Linked DNA regions of Homo sapiens: region 1 is linked to region 2. Evidence: fine-mapped expression QTL. A gene starts in region 2. The other region holds a variant in brackets. All regions are shown on one strand. Distances are from middle to middle.

Region 1 (5,166 bases), 48 kb before region 2:
TCAACCACTTTCAGCAAAGCTTTGCGGAGAATGCAACATCCTTCAAGACACCATGAAGCTCCACGCATCTGGTCATCTTGTTTCTTCAGGGAATAAATTTATTGTTCTCTGCTTCAGGTGACTGGAGGAGACAAAGTGATCCCCCATTTATGTCTCTGCCTCTACCTTCCCTGCTGCTACCTGCAACTCTCTGGTGTCTTTGGGGGGTTCCAACTCCTTGACGGGGAGGGCGAGTTCCCTGGGCAATTGGCCATCAGTGCACCCTGCCTCTATTGGGAAGAGCTCTTCTACCAGGCTGTTCCATTCTCACAAGTAAGCCTAAAAGAGATGGCTCCCTCAGTGGTTTACCTCTGGTCCTATCAATCTGATGATGAGGCCACTTAGTTCTAAGTAAAGTGACAGATGACCAAGGACTTTCTTTGAAGAGACATTGGGTTGGCCAGGCGCGGTGGCTCTTGCTTGTAATCCCAGCACTTTGGGAGGCCGAGGTGGGCAGATAACCTGAGGTCGGGAGTTTGAGACCAGCCTGGCCAACATGGAGAGACCCTCTCTCTACTAAAAGTACAAAATTAGCTGGATGTGGTGGCACATGCCTGTAATCCCAGCTACTCAGGGGGCTGAGGCAGGAGAATTGCTTGAACCTGGGAGGCGGAGGTTGCAGTGAGCCGAGATTGCACCACTGCACTCCAGCCTGGGCAACAAGAGAGAAACTGTCTCAAAAAAAAAGAAAAAAGAAAAGACATTGGGTGTTCTTGATACTTTAAGATTTCACAGACGAAGAAAATGCAAGTCAGCAAGCAGGTTGCTGAGTATTCCCAGGGTATTCCATCCTTTTCTTCCATTTACCAAAGAGCTAAAGAGTAGTTTATATTCATTGCCTTCACTTTTGCATCTTCACTTTTTTTATACTTCATTTGTTTACCATATCCCTGAAATCCTAGCAGTCTGACATCTGAGAGCCTACCTTCTTTCCCTTAACTCTAACTGAAATTAACTCCCAACTTTAATATCCATTTGTCTTTCTCTCCCCCAACTTGCTGCTGTGTTTAAAACTATTGATTGACAACCCTACTTGTAAAGGCCCCTACCTTGGCTCCTATGACTGCATTATCCTGGGGGTGGGCAGGAAACCCTAGGGAAAGCCTTTCATCAATGAACCTGGATGTGAGTCCTGATTTTTCTCAATACTATCTATGTCACACTGTGTATGTTAATTTTGTTCAATAAGCTTTATTCTTGTTCACCTCGTATATTTGTGACGATTGAGTAATGGGGAAGAATATATTTGTGATGACTGAGTAATGGGGAAGAATTTTGGATAACACCAGGGTTTGGGCTTAGGTGAATAAGAGAATAAATGTGCAGATATTCAAGGCTTACTTCTTATACGTAATTAGTTGCTAAGAGAGATTAACTTCACTTCTATCACGTCTCCCAGATTTATTCCTCCTCTTCATTTTTATTACCTTGGTAGAACTCTTCACCACCTTTGACTTGGCCTAGTGGTTAATGAGCTGAGTTCTGAGCAGCTTTTGGGATTTCCAGGGAGATTCCTCAAGGACTTCTCCTCATTTTAGCAAGGTTAGCTCCACTTTCATCTGTTTTATTTATGTGTTTGTTTTTTTATTTGAAGAAAATATTTTCATTTTCAACTTTAATAAGAAACGACACTTACCCAGTTATTGATTCTGCCTCATCATCGGTCTCTATCTTCAGATCACCTCCCATATGATCTTAGAGTCAGTTCTCTGATTACTTATCCTGAAGCATATTTCTGATCCTGTCATATTGCATTGCCCGGAAATCTACTGTCCAAAATAGCAGTCCTTGGCCATTTGACTACTTAAGTTCGTTAAAATTAAATTAAATTAAATTAAATTAAAAATTCAGTTTCTTAGTGGCACTAGCCATATTTCAAATGCTTAATAGCCACCTGTATCTAGTGGCCTCCATTTTGAACAACTCATTGTTAGAACAGTTCCATCATTCTGGAAATTT[G/C]TATTGGATAGAGCTGTGCTAGATAGCTTGATAAACATTTCTGACCTTGGCATTAGGATTTAAAATCTATCTTTACCTGGCTCCTCTGCTGCTGTTTTCCTTTATAAAATGCTTCTGTAAGACTGAACTGTTTTCAAACATGCCATACTCAATTCCTGCTGTCATGCCTCCACTTACCCAACCCCACTCAGAGTGTCTTTTGCTCCATCACTGAACACCCAAATCCTACTCCCCATTTAAGGACTGTCCTCCAAGAAGTCTTTTCTAATTTCCGAACTCAAAGTAATTTACTCTTCCTGTGAACTCTTACAGGATTTTAAATAAAGCACTCTAATGTCATCTACCTCATTTCTTCTAGAATTATAACTATCTATACATGTATTTTAGCCCTTTAATTAGTCGGGGTTCCTCTGAAAGCTGATTCTGAGACAAGGATTCAAATCTGAGTAGTTTAGCTGAGAGGTGATCCCAGTAATCATCAGTGGAGGAGGGGGTTAGTAAAAGTGGGAGGCAAAGAAAATCAATTAAGGATGAATTATCAGTTCAGTTACTGATATGGAGGACTAGACCTCAATCCCACTGGAGGCAATGTGGAACAAAGTTATCCCAGCCAAGGTCAGGGAGGCTCCAATGTGTATTCACCAATGCCTTGCCCATTATTTATTTGAGGGATTCCAGGGAAAATCATTCTTGAGCATTTCCATTTTGTCCTGCATTCAGGGCAGGCACACTTGGCCAGTAAAGAAAATCCCCCCAGCAGAGAATTGCAGATACTCACAGCAAGAAGCCTTTCTTGTGAATGGAGGATGGATGTGGAGCTGGTCCGAGCAGTCTGCCTACTGCATCTGCTATGACACCCAGCAAACTGGAAGGTAGGTCCTGGAGGGCTGAGGTCACATGAGTCATAGATGTGTGTCTCCCTCAGTGACCTAACACCGGCAATCAGCAAAGAGTTGTTCAGCGAATGAATGCGTTATCCCGAAGATATTAGGTACTGGAGAAGAATTTGTCATGGAACCCAGTGGTTTGGATGGGTCAATTCACTTGCTGTCAACTGAGATAATCTCTGAATAGACAGACCTACGCCTAGGGTTTTCTGTTGGCTTTGATGTTCAGTACTTATGGACTAAACATTGTACAAGTGTGGGAATTTGTTGAACCAGACTGTAAAGGAGTTTTGAGATTGCTTCAGAAGCAAAGGAGCTTATATCTAGAGAGGAATACTCGGGAACATCGACTGCAGCACTTGCCTTGGTTAGATGCCTGATGATGCTGTTGTCACAGCCACCAAGGGAACCAGGTTTTTTCATTGCAGCCGGGCTTCAATACAGTCAGCCCTCTATGCCTGTCAGGAGAGGTGGCGGTGCAGTGTAAGACTTGGGAATCTAGGAAGAAAGGGTGTGTGTGTGTCTATGTGCGTGCATAGCATGTGTGTATGTGTGTGTAGCGTATATGCTATGTATGTGGTATGTGTGTGTATGTGTTTGTATGATGCATGTGCTGTGTGCTGTGTATGTTGTGTGTGGTACGTATGTGGTGTGTATATGTGTATTTATGTGTGTGATGTGTATAGAGTCGTGTGTGTGATGTGTATGTGTATGGTGTGTGCGGTGCATATGTGATATGTGCATGTGTGTGTGATGTATGTAGGGTCGTGTGTATGTGTTGTGTGTGTATGATGTGTTGTGTGTGTGCTGTGTATGTGGTTGTGTGTGTGGGTATATATGGTATGTGTATGTATGCATAGGTTTGTGATGTGTGTAGGGTTGTGTATGTATATGGTGTGTGTGTGATGTGTATATGTATATTTGTGTGATGTGTGTAGGGTTTTGTGTGTGTGGTGTGTATATGTGTGTGGTGTGTATATGTATGTGTCTTTCTGTCCTCCAACTTGCTGCTGCATTAGGGTTGTGTGTGTATGGTGTGTTAGGGTGGTGTGTGTATGATGTGTGTGGTGTGTATGTGGTTGTGTGGTGTATATGTGGTGTGTATATGTGTGTGTATATTGGGTTGTGTGGTGTGTGTGGTATGTTTGTGTGAGTGTGTGTGGAGTGTGTGCATGTGATGTGTATTGGGTTGTGTGTGTGGTGTGTGTGTGTGGAGTGTGTGTATGTGATATGTATCGGGTTGTGTGTGTGGTATGTTTGAGTGTGTGTGTGTGGAGTGTGTGCATGTGTGTATCGGGTTGTGTGTGTGGTGTGTGTGGTATGTTTGAGTGTGTGTGTGTGTGTGGAGTGTGTGCATGTGTGTATCGGGTTGTGTGTGTGGTGTGTGCACACGTGTGTGCTGAGAGTCATTGAGGGTACGCATTGCAGCCCTACAGGGCTGCAGAGGACCGAATGCCTGCCTGCACCATGTTGACCCTGATAGCAAGGCTGCTACAATATCGCCTTCCTCATGCCCGTGGCCTACTTTGCTCCCAACTCTCACAGACAAGGAGCCACACATTAAAAGCCTATGTTAAGCAGTCATGTGTCCCAAGAGAAGGGGAACATTGCAGTAAGAAATTCTGGTGAACGATAGAAAGCCAGGTGAGATGAACCTGGGGTACAGGGTCCTGGTCACCTAGCTAACTCAGTTTTCAAGGAGGAACCTGGTTGGAGACTCAGGTAGAAGAGGAAGCTCAGAACAAGTTTCAAACTGGAAGACCAGACAGTGGTTGCAAGTAGAGTCCCTCGAGGCTGAATCACAGCTCACAGTGTATAATTTTTAGAATACTCATCTTCCAGTCCCAGCTTGACACTGACTTGGGGAAGTTACATAGCCTCTTTCAGGCCCCTGCATCCTCATCTTTTAAGACAAAGATGGTGAAAGTCTCTGTTGTCAGGATTAGAGGATTGCTTTTAGCAGAAATTCCCCATGGAGAGCAACTATTATTATGGATGCTGGATCCTGATGGATACCTCGGGGATATCCCATCCCAGTTAAATCTGTAGTAAGGGTTCAGGATGTAACATGGCAGCCAGGAACTGGGGTCATTGCACGGTCATCAAACTCTGAGTTTCACAGTAGATTTGTAGGTTTAGGTTTAAAGTTGCTTACGCAATCCCAGGTTGGTTTGGGAACTAGTGTGGGCTGAGCCTACTGGTGTGGGGAGCTGTAGCCGCAGGGTTAGGGAGAGAAAGGCAGTGTAGAGAGAGATTACGTGGGTGTAGGATTGGGGCCTCA
Region 2 (5,166 bases):
GTGAAGTTGTTGGGCAGCAAATAACATTACTGACTTGAGACTTCATTGCTGTGTCTTTCTCATTTCCTGACATGAACACTTGGATTCTGTAAAAAATATTTATTCAGAACAAGAACAATGCTGACTTTTCTATGAAGATCATTCAGTGATTCATTCAACAAATATTTGTGGTGCAGGTGCCAGGCACTGTCCCAGGTTCTGAATATTTTCACTGCGTGCTACTGTGTTTTAAATAATAGTGTGCAATCCTAAGAACGTAAACTAACTAAAGGTTTCTGATATGAGAGTTTAATGAGCCCCTGCTCAGGGAGTTTGCTGTGAACCCTTCACTGAATGTGGTCACATTCCCTAACATCACTAATTATGTAATGCCAAGTCCCTTAAGAATATCATTAGGTAACCTGCACTTCCCCATCAAGAATCTTAAAGTGAGGGAGTTAACAGTGGGTTAAGAAAGATAATGTGGTTGCTAGAAAGAATAATAGACCAGGAATTCAGAAACTGAGCTGTGAAGTGCTGTCATCTCTGTCAAGTCACTTAATTCACAGAATCTGTTTCCCTATCTGTAAAATAAAATTAGAAAAATGTTAAAGCGCTCTTTTAGGTTTGATATTCTGTAATCTTGTTAATAGATCTAATTAAGTCTAAATTCTAGGAGGAAGATAAACTCTACATTAAGAGTTTTGGCTCAATTCCTATTAATGGTGCAAAAATTTCTCTTATGTTGTGACATCAAAAAGAAAATACAAATAAACAAAGAAATAAATGTGTATGTAAATATTATTTTAAAGTGGTCACCAAGAGCACCATTTGACAGGTAATTTGACCCTTCAGTGCTTTGTCAAATATACTTCATGATTTAGCTACAGCAGGTATTTCTTCACTTCTCTTTGTAAATTTTTCTTTATCCAGATGGCAGAGGGGTTGAAAAAAGGTGGGGGGAGGGGCTGGCTACTGCATATTTATGTTACTGCTAAAACTTAAATTTTTATTTTTTAAAGTTAGAAGGTTTCCAATTTCGAGGAGTTTAACTTGTAGTTGGATTTTAGATGCTCCTCTGGCTAACGCTGGACATGAAGACAGACAGCAAAGCGTGGGGAGAGAGATCTAGTTTAAGTTCGAGGGAAAAAAATAACAGACGCAACTTAGATAAAAGAATACTACCATCAAAAAAAGGGGGGCTAGAGCCGGCGATGGCCTTGAGGATTAGGACACCTGCCGAGCCTGGAGTAAACAGGTAATGTCAGGCAGGTCCTGGAACCCCGGGAGGCCCAAGTTCTTGCTGCGGGAAGAGGGATTAGCAGAATGATAACGCAGGTCTGTTTGTGTTTTAGGGGTTTTAACATGCATTCTGCAAGTAAGTGACCTATCCAGGTCATTCGATTCAGGCTCAGAAAAAAAACCCCGCAAATTAATATATCTAAATGCTGAGATAGTGACACCTTTTTAAAAAAGTTATACATAAGCATCTTTATCAAAAAGCATTACATTTTAAGGCAAAAATCTGAACTGTCACAGTATCCACCTCACCGAGTTCAGCAGCCCCACCTTGGGTCAGGGCTGCCCCTGCAGCGCGGGCCCCCGAAATGCCCGCACCGCCCACGCCGCCCGCACCGCGCGCACCCAGCCGGGCCAGGGCGAGGGATCCAGGTCTCCCGGTCTCTCAGGGCGCGCGCCCGGGGTCCGGGGGTGGGGGGCGTGGAGGCGGTTCCCTTGGAGCGCCCAATCAGCAGTAAGGCCCGGCGGTGGCGCCAGTGACGTAGACCGCGCTTCCCTCCGCCCCACTGCGGGCCGTCGCTCGGCGCCGTCAGCCACGCGCGCTGCAGCGCGAGGGGAGAGCGAGAAGGAGGGCTTTGGGGCCGACCGGCTGTTGGAGGGCGGCGGGTCGCGGGGAGCGGGGGAGTGAGCATGCGCAGCGGCTCCGGGGAGCGCAGGGGAGGAGGGGCCGGCGCTGAGAGGCGCGCGCGTGCGCGTGCACGAGTGGCCCGCCGGCGGCTGCGGGTGGAGGGGGCGGTTCCTCGAGTGTCGGCGACCCGAGGGCGGGCAGGCGGGCGGCAGGTGCCGCCGCAGCCTCTGGCTGGTCCCGCGTCTCCGTCCTCCGGCGGCGATGAGCTGGGCCCTGTCGGGGGCTGCACCTGCCGGCTGCCCATCAGCACCGGCCTCCTGGCGTGACCTCGGCCTCCTCGCGTGTCCAGTCCCCGCGGCGCGGCGCTGCCCCTGAGAGGGAGCGGCGGCGGCCTCCTCCGCCCCGAGTCCTCGCTCGGGGGCCGCGCGAGGACGGCGCCCGGCCCCCTCCCCTCCTTCCTCCGTCCGCCGTCCTCAATGTCTCCCCGGCGGGGAGGGGGCTGCCTGGGAGACACGCTGAGCGGCCCCCCCACGGAGGCCCTCCGGCTGCAGCAGCAGCAGCGCCCGGCCCGGCGTCCCGCAGCCTCCACCAGCGGCGGCGGCCTGGAGGAGCCGCGCACCCGCCGCCGCCCCCCGAGCCTCGCAGCCGCCGCCGCCGCCCGGCACCCGAGGAGAGGGCGGCGGGCGCCCCTCGGGGAAGATGAAGGCGGAGGGGGGCGACCACTCCATGATCAACCTGTCGGTGCAGCAGGTCCTGAGCCTCTGGGCCCACGGGACGGTGCTGAGGAACCTCACGGGTAATTGACGCGCCTGGGCTGGGGACGGGGATGCGGTCCGCCCCTCTCCTGTCTTCTCCTTCCTCGGGAGGGGACACGCTCCTCGCCGCCCCACCCCCGTGCGCGCCCCGCTCGGAGCTCCAGGTCCCGGCGAGGAAGGTGTTAATCGGAGCCACTCTGCGCGTGTCCCGGGGGCGCCGGCTCCCGCCACCCCCTTCCCTGAGTCGCCAGGGGAGCATCAGCGACCCCCGCTCCTGCCCCGCACGGGGAGAGCTCCCGGTGGCGGCCCGGCCTCTGTAGTACGCGCGGAGTAGCTTTAGTGCTGAGACTTGAGCGCATTTCGCTTTTATTCCATTACCCTCCTCCCCTCCCCCTTCTACACACATCGCTTCTTGCTATTTACATCTTTTTCTGATTTAGTTCTTTTTCTTTCTGGCAAATCTCAAGCCAAATGTAGAACCTAAAATCATTGCCCACAATGGTCGATTTACTTTTTCAACCGCTAATTTTTTGGGCGATGTAGATAACTGAGTAAATTATAGTGGGTCAGGGGCTGAGCTAAGGTCTAGTGCGGTCTAAGCGTGTTAGCTTCATATATCTCCTTCCCCTCCCATTTCCTTTTGTCTGTCTGTCTCTTTCCCTCAGGCCTCCAGCTGCTGCTTCTGAGACATTTGATAATTTTGTGTATTTCCCTTCATTTATTAAGGCTGTCAGTAATTGGCCTTATAACATCAATTTCTATTTGTAAAAGTGAGTGATAAAACACACAATATTTTTATTCAGTCTGTAGATTTGCTTTGTGAAGAAACTTCTGGTTTTGTTATGTGGAAATGCTTACATTATACTTTGAGTTCCGAATTTAAAAATTATTCTCTGAAGTAGAATTTACGAGAAAGAGATTCAGTTGCGATTTGGTGACTCCTCAGTGCCTGCTTTTCAGAGGAAAAAAATCTTAAAAAAATACTCAGAATTTAATTCTTGAAAATGTGTAAGGCAGTTAATTTCAGTAGAACATTAGTATTTCAAAATGCATTTTGTCAAACTGGTTAAAGTGTTGTGAGTATTTTACAAATATAACCTGGGTTCATATATATAACATATATATAAAGTCTGGCATGGTATAGAATACAAACATTCATAGAAGAAAATTTTATGGAATTATATACCACAAAAGACAACTTTAAGGACACTGGTTTCTTCGAATGGAAACTATACAGTTAAAGTAGATTCTGGATTGCTTCATGCTATCCTCACTTTTAAGCTGTGGTTATTTAACTTGAAACAGACTGACTTTACATGATGATTGCCGGTAAGGAATATATTGTTATAATTCTGGAAAACTAAATGGACATAAAGACCATCTCATGATTCAGTTGAATTTAGAGGTAGACTGCTTTATCTTACTTATGATTTTGCTTGCATTTATCCACTGTTTGGTATTTGAACTGTACCAGTTTTTGTTTAAGTGAAATGAAAAGTAGGGACTTAACATATATTTGTGCAGGCATACCTTGGAAAGATTGCAGGTTTGGTTCCAGAACACCACAATAAAGCAAATATTGCAATAAAGTGAGCCAAATGAATTTTTTGTTTTCCTAGTGCATGTAAAAGTTACATTTTACCTGTAGTCTTTAAATGTGAAATAGCATTATGTCTGAAAAAAAAGTACAGACGTTAATTTAAAAATACTTTATTGCTGAAAAATTGCTAACGATCATCTGAGCCTTCAGCAAGGACGTTATCTTTTTTCTGGTAGAGGGTCTTGTCTTTGTGTTGATGACTGCTGACTGATCAAGGTGATGATTGCTGGAGATTGGGATGATGGCAGTTTTCTTAAAACAGCAATGAAGTTTGCCACTAAGGAAGAGCAATAGACTCTTCCTTTCATGAAAGATTTCTCTGTAGCATGGGATGCTGTTGGGTAGCATTTTATCCACAGTAGAACTTTCAAAATTGGAGTCAGTCCTTTCAAACCCTGCTGCGGCTTTATCAACCGAGTTTATCTAATAGTCTAAATCCTTTGTTGTCATTTCCACGGTGTTCACATGATCTTCACCAGGAGTAGATTGCATCTCAAGAAACCACTTTCTTTGCTCATCCATAAGAAGCAACTCCTCATCCATTCAAACTTTATCATGAGATTGCAACAATTCAGTCACATCTTCAGGCTCCACTTCTAATTCTAGTTCTCTTGCTATTTCGACCACACCTATGGTTACTTCCTCCACTAAAGTGTTGATCCCCTCAAAGTCATCCATGAGGAATGGAGTCAATTGCTTTCCAACTCCTATGAAAGTTGATATTTGGACCTCTTCTCATGAGTCACGATTGTTCTTAAGGGCATCTGGAATGGTGACTCCTTTCCAGAAGGTTTTCAATTTCCTTTGCCCAGGTCCATCAGAGGAATCACTATCTCTGGCAGTTTTAGCCTTCTTACACAGTGTATTTCTTAAATAATAAGACTAGAAAGTCAAAATTACTCTTTGATCCATGGTCTGCAGAATGGATGTTGTGTTAGCAGTCATGAAAACAACATTGATCTACT

The links.
Region 1: its variant is fine-mapped to the expression of TMEM170B in whole blood (TOPMed, PIP above 0.99).

What each region holds. Positions count from the first base shown.
Region 1 is chr6:11,487,595-11,492,760 of GRCh38, forward strand. LOC105374928 (a long non-coding RNA gene) reads left to right here. Exons shown (of 5, transcript NR_187824.1): 2 at 1-117; 3 at 2,719-2,870. Among named protein-coding and RNA genes, the nearest start is that of TMEM170B, 48 kb to the right of the region's middle. RefSeq lists an enhancer at 4,411-4,530. The variant G/C (reference allele first, on the strand shown) is at 1,999.
Region 2 is chr6:11,535,733-11,540,898 of GRCh38, forward strand. It overlaps TMEM170B (transmembrane protein 170B), which reads left to right and starts at 2,017. Exons shown (of 3, transcript NM_001100829.3): 1 at 2,017-2,642. The coding sequence starts at 2,546. RefSeq lists silencers at 1,481-2,310, 2,341-2,500, 2,601-2,680, 2,691-2,970 and an enhancer at 2,310-2,811.